Linked DNA regions of Homo sapiens. The protein of the gene in region 1 purifies or fractionates together with the protein of each later gene. This does not show direct contact. Each region holds a gene or a part of one and is shown in the gene's direction. Other genes may lie near its edges. The genes, in order: CRHBP, COA7 and CCNB2.

What was found.
Region 2: the proteins of CRHBP (region 1) and COA7 purify together in Homo sapiens (affinity purification with mass spectrometry; 4 studies listed by BioGRID and IntAct, with this or other methods). This does not show direct contact.
Region 3: the proteins of CRHBP (region 1) and CCNB2 purify together in Homo sapiens (affinity purification with mass spectrometry; 4 studies listed by BioGRID and IntAct, with this or other methods). This does not show direct contact.

Annotation. Positions count from the first base shown.
Region 1 is NC_000005.10:76,951,217-76,954,964, forward strand, and holds the start of CRHBP (corticotropin-releasing factor-binding protein), read left to right. Parts: upstream 1-1,828; 5' UTR 1,829-1,918; coding exon 1,919-1,999; intron 2,000-2,384; coding exon 2,385-2,478; exon of another isoform or gene 2,479-2,524; intron 2,525-2,812; coding exon 2,813-2,970; intron 2,971-3,748. UniProt on the Homo sapiens protein: Binds CRF and inactivates it. May prevent inappropriate pituitary-adrenal stimulation in pregnancy.
Region 2 is NC_000001.11:52,696,859-52,700,606, reverse strand, and holds the start of COA7 (cytochrome c oxidase assembly factor 7), read left to right. Parts: upstream 1-2,259; 5' UTR 2,260-2,280; coding exon 2,281-2,386; intron 2,387-3,748. UniProt on the Homo sapiens protein: Required for assembly of mitochondrial respiratory chain complex I and complex IV.
Region 3 is NC_000015.10:59,103,346-59,107,093, forward strand, and holds the start of CCNB2 (G2/mitotic-specific cyclin-B2), read left to right. Parts: upstream 1-1,800; 5' UTR 1,801-1,923; coding exon 1,924-1,947; intron 1,948-3,748. UniProt on the Homo sapiens protein: Essential for the control of the cell cycle at the G2/M (mitosis) transition.

The DNA of each region.
Region 1 (3,748 bases):
ATTCATCCCAGCTCTTGCTGTGTGTGGTTCCTGAGGAGTGGGCATCATGACAGCAGGGTGGGAACATCACTGTTGTCTGTGCACGTGCATGCGTGCATGTGTGTGTGCACATGTGCACATGTGCATATGCTTGTAAAGGGGCTGGCTGGAGAAGAATGTCTCCTTGGTGATGCTAACAAAGCAACATTGAGCTGGAGTGACATCAGGTGCCAGACCCCCTAAGAGGTAAAGGCAGAGGTCTCCAAGGTGGGTGCTGGACTGAATTCTGGGAACAGGCCAAGGGCTGTGGCTACATCAATGGGAAAGAGAAGAGGGCCTGTGGCATGCCTGGTGAGTGGGCCTAAGGCTCCCTCTAGGCACAAAAAGGGTGGGAGATAGAGCTGAAGATGGCCTGGCATGTTTGAGGCCAGCAAGTTGGGGTTAAGTTGTTTGTTTTTCTCCTCTTTTATTCCTCCCAGGTTTCTTTATAACCTTTTCAAAATTCAGGCATCTAAACAGCCCTTGGGATGAGAAGGACATGGTGGCCAGTGTCCATGAGCTTTAGGTACTCTTTTCCCTCTCACTGTCTGTGGTCTGAGGACTGCTTACAAAGTTGGACTGTGGCACGAAGGCCTCCTGATTAAACCAACAAAGAGGCCGCCTCTCCAGAGCTCAGAATTGTCCTGACATGAAAATAATCAAGTTCTGACACTGCCAGGATAATTACTGTTTAATTTCGAGTATTTTAAAACTGAAAATATAGCCATTCCTTCCTTTATAACTCTGTATTATGGTCTATTTGTAATAATTGTAATAACAATGCTTGGTGCAGAGACTGGAAAGGGGTAGGAAAGCCAATAGTGGAGCATCCTCATGTTTCCCACAGTTTTGGACACAAAGAAGAAATTCTCTTCTCTCCTGATAAGCAGAGATAAGCTTATACTTATTTCCGGATCCCTAAGTCATCTTTTTAGCCCTGCAAATTTGCTGGTGAGCAGTTACAATAAAGCTTCCTGGCAGTTCCTTCTACCAGAGTGTTAAAGTAATCCAGGTATTTGAAGGCACGAAATGGAATGACTTAATCTCATCTCTCAGTGGTTCAGATGGATGCGAAGGTCATGGCTACAGCTACCTGGTCTAGGAGTGTGTACATCATGTAAACATCCAGGTCAAGTGACAGAGCTCAGCTAAAATCCAGAAGTCCCCTGACACCAGAGTTAGTTTTCCATGAAAGAAATGCCTATAAGAAACTGGACCAGGATAAAGCAAAGAGTAAGGGGCAGGAAGAAAGCTTATAATTGCATTACTGCAATCTTCTGCAAAATCAGACTTCTGCTTCTGTTCCACCTCTTTAAAGCTGAAAATGCCTCAAGTTTCTTACTGAGAGACATGAGAAATTCCATGAATACTAAATTCTTTGACAATTTCTAGCATGGTTTCATCCAAGGTTATGTGATGAGGCTGCATAATATAGGCTCTATATGTTTGGGTATTTTATGCGTGTATGTAACTTTGTCACTTTGATTTGCAAAATGGAAAATTCCCTGAATGCCCACAGAAAAGTATAATGTAGCATTTAGCAGGTCAACAAAATGCACTCCCTTATTCTTTGTCTCCGCCTCATTCTCCAACACTTTAGTGCACTAAGTTGTAGTGACTGAAATCATTCTTGGTGAATAATGCTGGGCCACGCTGAAAATTTGTGGCTGAGAGCTGGACCCTCGTCATCGCCACGTACTCTGTCAATGAGACAGGGTAACCCATGGTTACTGAGCTCCGATCAGTTAAGGGGCAGAGAGCCTCCGCTCCCCACTGCTCTATAAAAGAGACCCAGCAAAGGGACCCTACCAGCTTCTAGCTCTCAGTCTGCGCGAGGGTGTAGGAAGGAAAGCCCAGGACCTCCGGAGCAGAGCACAGCAGCTGCAGAGGCAAGGCCAGCATGTCGCCCAACTTCAAACTTCAGTGTCACTTCATTCTCATCTTCCTGACGGCTCTAAGAGGGGAAAGCCGGTACCTAGAGGTGAGCCACCCCTGGACTGACCCATCTCACCTTCCTTGCGTGTTAGCCCTAGGCGGCAGGCAGGCTGCCTCTGCTCGCAGCCTTTTGGGGTTCGCTGTTTCTTCCCTCTCTGCTGGATGCTGTCTTGCCCCTGGTTTCCCCTATCCTGTTCTCCCTCCTTGCCTCTGAGCATCCCAGACTGCCTGCCTGCCTTCCTCTGGCCGCTGGGGATACCCTGGCCTGATGGAGAGGGTCTAAGACCTTCCCGTCTTCTCCGGACACGGGAAAACATTACCCCTCTCTCTTTATTCGCTATGCTGAGTGGCAGGGAGGGTGCCCCGCTCCTGGTCCCCTTTTTTATCCCCAGCCCTTGAACTTTTCCGGACTGACCTATGTTTCTTGCCAGCTGAGGGAAGCGGCGGACTACGATCCTTTCCTGCTCTTCAGCGCCAACCTGAAGCGGGAGCTGGCTGGGGAGCAGCCGTACCGCCGCGCTCTGCGTGAGTCGAGGCTGCCCGGCTCGCGGGCGCCCGGGACGCGGGGAAGGTGGGACTCTGTGCGGGGGGCAGAGGGCTCGCGGACATCTCGGGGAAGGGGCTGGCCGGAACCGCCAGGGGCGCGGTCCCCTTAGCTAAGGATCGGTCCGCGGAGGCGCGCCAGGAGCGGGAGAGGGTGGCGCGCCCGGGGCGCAGGAACCCAGCGCAGCCTAGGCTGGAAGTCGGGGCGCTGGGCACTACAGAGCCCGGGAATGGGGCGCGCGGAGAGCGGCCGCCCGAGGACGGCGCTGCGGCGGCTGCAGCCCGGGACTTATTGCCCCATGCCCTCCTCCCCCAGGGTGCCTGGACATGCTGAGCCTCCAGGGCCAGTTCACCTTCACCGCCGACCGGCCGCAGCTGCACTGCGCAGCCTTCTTCATCAGCGAGCCCGAGGAGTTCATTACCATCCACTACGACCAGGTCTCCATCGACTGTCAGGGCGGCGACTTCCTGAAGGTGAGGCGCCCACGGCCAGCCAACCTAGCCGGAGGGCGGCACGGGAGGGTTGGAAAGGGCTGGGGCGCTGCACCCAGCGTGGGGCTGCTGAGCGTAGGTAGCCAGTGGCACTTCTTAGACACTTCGCTGGTGCCCGAGTCGGAGAGGCGCGTTCGAGGACCCCCACACGGCGAGAATCTCGCCCTTACCCGAAGACCTCGACCCACACACATCCAGTGGGGCTGGGGCCGGTGCCTCTGGACGCTGCCATGGTTTAAATTCCCTTCTGGGCGCTTTCGAGGCCCTAGGAACTTCTAAAGACTTGAACTCGCAGCGCGGAACTCTGACGCAATCCAGGGCCGAGGAAAAATGATTAAAACCCAACAAGCTCGAGTGCTGGGGTCCACCAAGCGGGCCGTCTTGGTTAGAAGGCCCGCCCCACACGTCTCACATCTGAGCCCGCCTCGCTCCTGCTGGTCCACGCTCGGCAGAGCCGTTCCGAGAGCACAGAGGCTGTCTTCAGTGCGCGGGTGACCCGATTTTGGAGCAGTAGGGGACTGGCTGCCGAGGGGGCATCTAGATTGAGATAGGTGGGAGGGCAGGACAAGACCCCTAAGCTCACTGCCTCCTCGATTCCAGTCGTCAGACTCCATAAGTATAACAGGGCAGCATGGGATGGCTGATGGAGCTCTACTGTCCAATTAAAATAATCATGATTAACATCTCCAAAGTAGGATTATTTTGGAACCTGTCACATGCGTTAGAAATAATTTGTAGCTGGGTTGTTGGTAATTTTGCT
Region 2 (3,748 bases), on another chromosome or scaffold:
ACCAAAATGGGAGCATCTAAATCTAATTTGAATGTGTGTAATTGTTGTGTCTGGGAAGACTTTACATAGGAGAGTATTTCCGATTTGTGTCAAAAAGGGTGGTCCAGGCATCAAGAGCAGAGGTAAACAGGGACACAAACTTGGGATCTATTCAGAGAACAGAAGGTTGGTGGGATGTGGGGGAAGAGAGGCAGAAAATAAGGCTAGAATCAGATTGCACAGGGTCTTGAAGGCCATCCTAAAGAAGATGACCTCAAACCAAAGTTCAAGGATTCCCATCCTGGGCCATGTGTACTGAGGAGTCCCCTAAGGTGATCAGGGTATAAGAAACCACAGGTAAATGTGGTATATTGCCTGGAATGTCAATTTTACTCAAAGGCTTGGGGGAGAAAAGGCAATCTTCTGTTATCCTATGAAAGATGTATTATGGGGAAATGAATGTAAAATCCTATGAATTTAAAAAATAAAACTGGGATTTCAGACATTATTGGCTGCCTTCCAATAAATAAGTGGTTGGAAATAGTCCATTCTTTGCTGCCATTGGGGATAGCTTAATAATGGAGCCATTTGGAAAGCATTGTTATAGGCGATGGGAAGCCATGGATTTAGCTCCATTGAGAATTCAAAAGTAGGGCTGGATGGAATTCAAAGATGAATGGGAAGTCAGCCGGGTGTGGTGGCTCACGCCTGTAATCCCAGCACTTTGGGAGGCCGAGGCCAGCGGACCACCTGAGGTCAGGAGTTCAAGACCAGCCTGGCCAATATAGTGAAACCCTGTCTCTACTAAAAATACAAAAAAAATTAGCCGGGCGTGGTGGTGGGCACCTGTAAGCCCAGCTACTCGGGAGGCTGAGGCAAGAGAATCGCTTGAACCTGGGAGGCGGAGGTTGCAGTAAGCTGAGACCGCGCTATTGCACTTCAGCCTGGGCAACAAGAACGAAACTCCGTCTCAAAAAAAAAAAAAAAAAAGACGAATAGGAAGTGGCTGTCTTAGGAGAACTTTCCATCTAAGCTTTATGGAACTGATGATTCTTAGCAGGAACAGGAGCAGGAAAACAAAGCAAAATGTAGGTAAATTTCCTCTCCTCCTCCCCATCTCCTTGACATGTTCCTTTTCTACCTCATTCATTCTTTTTCGCTCTTGTCGCCCAGGCTGGAATGCAATGGCACAATTTCGGCTCACTGCAACCTCCACCTCCCAGGTTAAAGCAATTCTCCTGCCTGAGCCTCCCAAAGAGCTAGGATTACAGGTGTGCTCCCTGTAATTTTGTATTTTTAGTAGAGACCCCTGCTAATTTTGTATTGTTAGTAGAGACAGAGTTTCACCAGGTTGGCCAGGCTGGTCTCGAACTCTTGACCTCAGGTGATCCACCCACCTCGGCCTCCCAAAGTGCTGGGATTACAGGCGTGAACCACCGCGCCCGGCCTCATTCATTCTTTTATTTTTTTAAAAAAAATTATTATTGCATACCAACTCCCTCACTTACTGTGTGACCTTGGACAAACTACTTAATTTCTCTGTACTTTAGTTTTCTTATCTGTAGAATGGGGATAATAATAATACCTACCCACAGTGTCACTGTGAGTGTTTTTACAGTGACATGATATATAATGAGAATTAAATGAGTTAATTCATATAAAGCATTTAGAGCCTGGAACAAAGTTCAGCACTGTTTGAGTACTAGGTGTTATAACAGTGACGTTGCTACACCCTTCACTGCTACTGTGTGCCAGTCAACATCTCCCATAGCCATTCATTGCTTAGGTAATTCATGTTGGTGGCCAAGACAGGTCTGGGAAGAAGACAGATGAATCAGACTGCTCACTGCACTTTGTCCAGCTACACCTGGCACATATAGAAGCTCCTCTAAATGCTTGCTGAATGGATAAGCGAATGTCTTCCTATTGAACTCCAAGTTCTTTGAAGGCAGGGACCATATTCCTAGCTGTCATATCCCTAGAACAATGCACTGGTGAGGCACACAGTAGGCGCTTAGGGATTATACATAGATAAATGACTGCAGGTGGAAAATCACTAAGGCTACAAAGCGAGCATAGGTAAGGTGCTGCAGAGAGACAGCCCCCAGTTTCAGGAAGGCGGTAGCCCTGGAAGCGTGGCTGCCAGCGCCCTTAACGGCGCGATGGCTGCTGGGAAGCACAGGCTCGCTTGGCTCGCCCCGGGATCCCGGGAGAGCGCCGCGGTTGGCGTCGGCGTCAGCCCCACGCCCCGCCCCGCCCCCTCCGCCGGCTCACGTGACCGTCTTTGGGCCGGCGCGAACCATGGCCGGCATGGTGGACTTCCAGGATGAGGAGCAGGTCAAGTCCTTTTTGGAGAACATGGAGGTGGAGTGCAACTACCACTGCTACCACGAGAAGGACCCGGACGGTGAGCGGCTCCAGCGCAGCCCGGCGACGCGTCGGGGAGGGACGTGCCCGGAGAGGTCTGGTCTGCGACCTCTGAGAGGCTGGAGAAGGAATCACGTGGCGGGCGGGGGACGGGGTCTGTGGATCGCGGTGACCGCGTGTGTTGGGAAGGGCGATGTGTCCCGGGAAGACCGAGCCAGGAGGCCGGGGCGGGTAGGAAGAGACGTGCTGGGGCTTTTGGGTTAGGGACTGGGGATCCATCGGTGAACAGATGAAACTCCCTGCCCTCGTGGAGCTTCCAAGCTAGTGCGGGGAGTCGGGCAATAAGCCTCAGGTAATTCATGAAATCGTGTTCGAAAGTAGTAAGTACCGGCCGGGAGCCGTGGCTCACGCCTATAATCCCAGCACTTTGGGAGGCTGAGGCGGGTGGATCACGAGGTCAGGAGATCGAAACCATCCTGGCTAACACGGTGAAACCCTGTCTCTACTAAAAATACAAAAAATTAGCCGGGCGTGGTGGCAGGCGCCTGTATTCCCAGCTACTCGGGAGGCTGAGGCAGGAGAGTGGTGTGAACCCGGGAGGCGGAGCTTGCAGTGAGCAGAGATCGCGCCACTGCACTCCAGCCTGGGCGACAGAGCGAGACTCCGTCTCAAAAAAAATAAATAAAAAGAAAGTAGTAAGTGCCGTGGAAAAAAGACTGGGTGAAGGGTGTCAGGAGGGCAGGAGGGCAGTTTTAAATTGAGTGATCAGGGAAGATCACTGAGAAAGTGGCAATTGAATAAAGCCTTGAAGAAGGTAAGGGAGTGAACCATGCAGTTCTTACCATAGGTAACAGCTGGCGAAGACGCCCTGAATCACAAATGTGTCCTGTGTGTTGTGTGAACATTGAATTGACTTAAGAGTATAGGTGGATGGTGGTGACCAGAGGGGTCCACCCAGAGCAGCTAATACCTTTGGGTGGTTTTCTTCTTCTTGCTTTATTTTTATTTTTTGTATTTTCTTTCTTTTTTGAGATAGTATGTCACTACGTTGTCCAGGCTGGTCGCAACTCCTGGGCTCAAGTGATCCTCCCGCCTTTGATTACAGGCATGAACCACTGCACACTGCCTACTTTTTAATTTTTTTGTTTTTTTGAGACTGAGTCTCACTCTGTCACCCAGGCTGGAGTACAATGGCTCGATCTCAGCTCACTGCAACCTTTGCCTCCTGGGTTAAAGCAATTCTCCTGCCTCAGCCTCCCGAGTAGCTGGGATTACAGGCACCCACCACCAGGCCTGGCTAATTTTTGTATTTTCGTAGAGACAGGGTTTCACCATGTTGGCCAGGCTGGTCTCGAACTCCTGACCTCAAGCAATCCATCTGCCTTGGCCTCCCAAAGTGCTG
Region 3 (3,748 bases), on another chromosome or scaffold:
TCCCACTTACAAGTGAAAACATACGGTTTTTGGTTTTCCACTCCTGAGTTACTTCACTTAGAATAATGGCCTCTAGCTCCATCCAGGTTGCTGCAAAAGACATTATTTTGTTCCTTTTTATTGCTGAGTAGTATTCCATGGTGTATATATACCACATTTTCTGTACCCACTCGGTCGATGGGCACTTAGGTTGGCAATTGTGAATTGTGCTGCTGTAAACATACATGTGCAAGTGTCTTCTTCATATAATGACTTCTTTTCCTTTGGGTAGATACCCAGTAGTGGAATTGCTGGACCAAATGGTAGAACTACTTTTTGTTCTTTAAGGAATCACCATACTTTTTTCCATAGAAGTTGTACATTCCTACCAGCAGTGTTTAAGCATTCCCTTTTCCCCACATCCACGCCTACACTGTTTTTTGACTATTGTTTTTTGAGGTTTTTTTTCTTTTTTAGACAGGGTTTCAATGTGTTGCCCAGGCTGGAGTACTGTGGCACAATCATGGCTCACTGCAGCCTCAGACTCATGGGATCAAGGGATCCTCCTGCCCCAACACACGGCCCCCCGCCCCCCGCCCCCCGCCCCCCTCCCAGTACCTGGGACTACAGGTGCTCACCACTACACCCGGCTAATATTTGTATTTTTGTAGAGACGGGGTTTTGCCATGTTGCCCAGGCTGGTCTTGAACACCTGGGCTCAAATGATCTGCCCAACAGGCCTCCCAAAGTGCTGGGATTACAGGTGTGAGCCACTGCGCCCGGCCTTTTTTTCTGACTTTTTAATGATGGCCATTCTTGCAGGAGTAAGGTGGTATCTCCTTGTGGTATTAACTTGCATTTCTTCGATGATCAGTGATGTTGAGCATTTTTTCATGTATTTGTTGGCCATTTGAATATCTTTTGAGAAATATCTATTCATGTCCTTTGCCCATTTTTTGATGGCATTATTTTCTTTCTTGCTGATTTGAGTTCCTTCTAGATTCTGGACACTAGGCCTTTTTCCGATGCATAGTTTGCAAATATTTTCTCTTAATCTGTGGTTGTCTATTATTTCTTTTGATGTGCAGAAGCTTTTTAGTTTAATTAGGTCCCATTTATGTATTTTTGTTTTTGTTGCATTTGCTTTTGGGGTCTTAGACATGAATTCTTTGCTTGGGCTGATTATTAGACGAACATTTATTGAGCACCAACCATATACGACAAACGATGTACTAGGTGTTGGGAATACAATGGAGAACTTACATGAATCACCAGTCACACAAATCTCTTTTATCTTTTTTTTTTTTTTTTTGCCTTACTTGAGAATTTGGGTTTTTGAGTAAACGCCATTATTCTCTCTTTTTTTAAGCACACTTTTGCATCTCAACCACCTAACACACTGCATCCCTGAGCAACCCGGAGGGGCCGGTTCCTGCACCCAGGCCAACACAACTTAAACCCCAACACACCAGAAGAGGAATAAAGGCCAACCAACTTCCGCCCACCCACTACAAACGTCGAGAGAAATTCGTAGATGAGGCCTTGTCAAAATTCAGAGGCGTCCTACGTCTGCTTTCCCAATGAGACAGTTCCTTTTTGTTTGTCTCAGAGACTGGGGTTTTTTTTTTTTTAAAAGACTGTAGGCAGAAAAAACACCCCAACCGGCTGTTGTGACAATCAAACGTGTCTAAGAAAATTCAGCCAATGAGAGTGCGAGAGTGCATCTTGTGTTGGCCAATGAGAACAGCGACCCGTGCGCAGGGCCGCCCAATGGGGCGCAAGCGACGCGGTATTTGAATCCTGGAACAAGGCTACAGCGTCGAAGATCCCCAGCGCTGCGGGCTCGGAGAGCAGTCCTAACGGCGCCTCGTACGCTAGTGTCCTCCCTTTTCAGTCCGCGTCCCTCCCTGGGCCGGGCTGGCACTCTTGCCTTCCCCGTCCCTCATGGCGCTGCTCCGACGCCCGACGGTGAGTGTGCCCGGGGACCGCTCTCAGAGGCGAGTCCGTCGGCCCCACAGCTCCCCTGTCGCTTCTCTCATCTGCTCCGAGCTTCTCCGTCCCAACCGGGGCTGCTTTTCTCTTCTCCGGAGCTCACTGCTTCGCCCGCGTCCCTGGCCCTGCGGCCGGTCCTCTCCGGCCCGCCTTTCCCCGTCTGGATTCCGCCCTCCCCTAACCCCTCCCTGCCCCGGGGTGGGAGAAGTGTAGGAAAGCGCTTCCGAGATGGCGCCTGTCAAGTGAGCCCCCAGAGCACTAGGCCTAGTACTCAGCGAGCGATCCCCGAGTGCTCTTCATTGCTAGAGAGTTATCTACTTCCACGTTCCTGGGATTTCCCTCCCCCTTTCTTACAACTCCTTGCCAACTAAGGGACCTGTGATGGCGGCTGGGAGGAGGACTGGAAGGGTTCTGTAGGCAGTAAAGTGTACGGCGTGTTTCATCAGGCAACTGCCAGGCTGTTTTTCAGATTGTTCACATTTCTTTTTGTATGAGTTTCCCATTTATTTCGGCACGCTAAGTCTTCCATGCTACGTTCACTAATAAATGGGTTTGTCCCCTTAAAAAATTAATTTCTTTACTCAAATGTAACAGAGGTTTTTGAATATAATTTGGACCAATGTGGCAGACTGAGAGAAAAGGGTCCAAATTCATTTATTTCATCCTTGCAGAGATCAAAGTGTTATGGTGTTTTGGGTATTTTTCCTGTGGGCTTGAATTGTACCGGGACCTACTTTTTTCCTTTGCCGAAAGCTAGAGGGCCCTGACACACCTGAGTTCCATCATCTTGGCTATAAGGTTAGATAAAAGCTGCCAATTTTCCTATCCAGATGAATTTAAATTGAGTCACATTACCAGGCTTCTACCCATAAGCATTACATTTTCAAACACTTTTTCAGATTGGCAGTTGCTGCTGGAAGAAATTGAAGTGTGACTTTTGAGAATCCTAATAGATTGAATACATTTAGCATTTAATTAATATCCTTTTGTGGATCTAAGTCCAACTGACAAGTAATTTTTTATAATAATGTATTCTATAACGTTATTTAATAGTCAAAACCTTTCTGTTCAGGGAAGGCTTGAGTTTCCCTGGCCCCTCTCTCTGCCTGGTAGATCCACTCAAACCCCTTGTTGGGAGTTTTATTAGAGTCGGGACCCTGAACTCTCAGGGATAGGACATGCTGGTTTTTTGCTTTTTTCTTTTTTAATGAAATGTTTATCACTTCTATAATAAACTTTTTTTGGTATGAGTTGCTTTTCCTAGCAAGTTTTATTTCCAAGCACATTATGTCTAAAGCAGGTTAAGGTCAACTGACAATTTTTATTTCATACAATTCCAACCTTCCCTGAGTTTGGGAGCTAAAACTATATTACTCAAGAAAACTACTTCCATTCTAAATGTCCTTAATATAAGAGAAAATCCATTCTATGGCAACCTCATTTTAAAAAGCTGTAGTTCTAAAAGATCATGCATACAGGAGCATTTCTTATTTGTGAAATGGCATAAGAATCAAAGCTAGTTTAGGTTTTAAACATCTGGTTTTTAAACAACCAGACCTATTATTAACTATTAATATTATAGCTTTATTATTTTTCATCTTAATTTACTTTTTACCAAGCTCTGTAAAGGAAGGTTTTTAAATATATGCCTTTAACTTGCAGGGATCTCTAACAAGTGATATGGGTACTATATGAGAAATAATCATTAAATACTAATAAGCTTTGAAGTTCTCTTACAGGCCCACTTGAATACTCAGAATAGCTTTGCAAGGTTAGT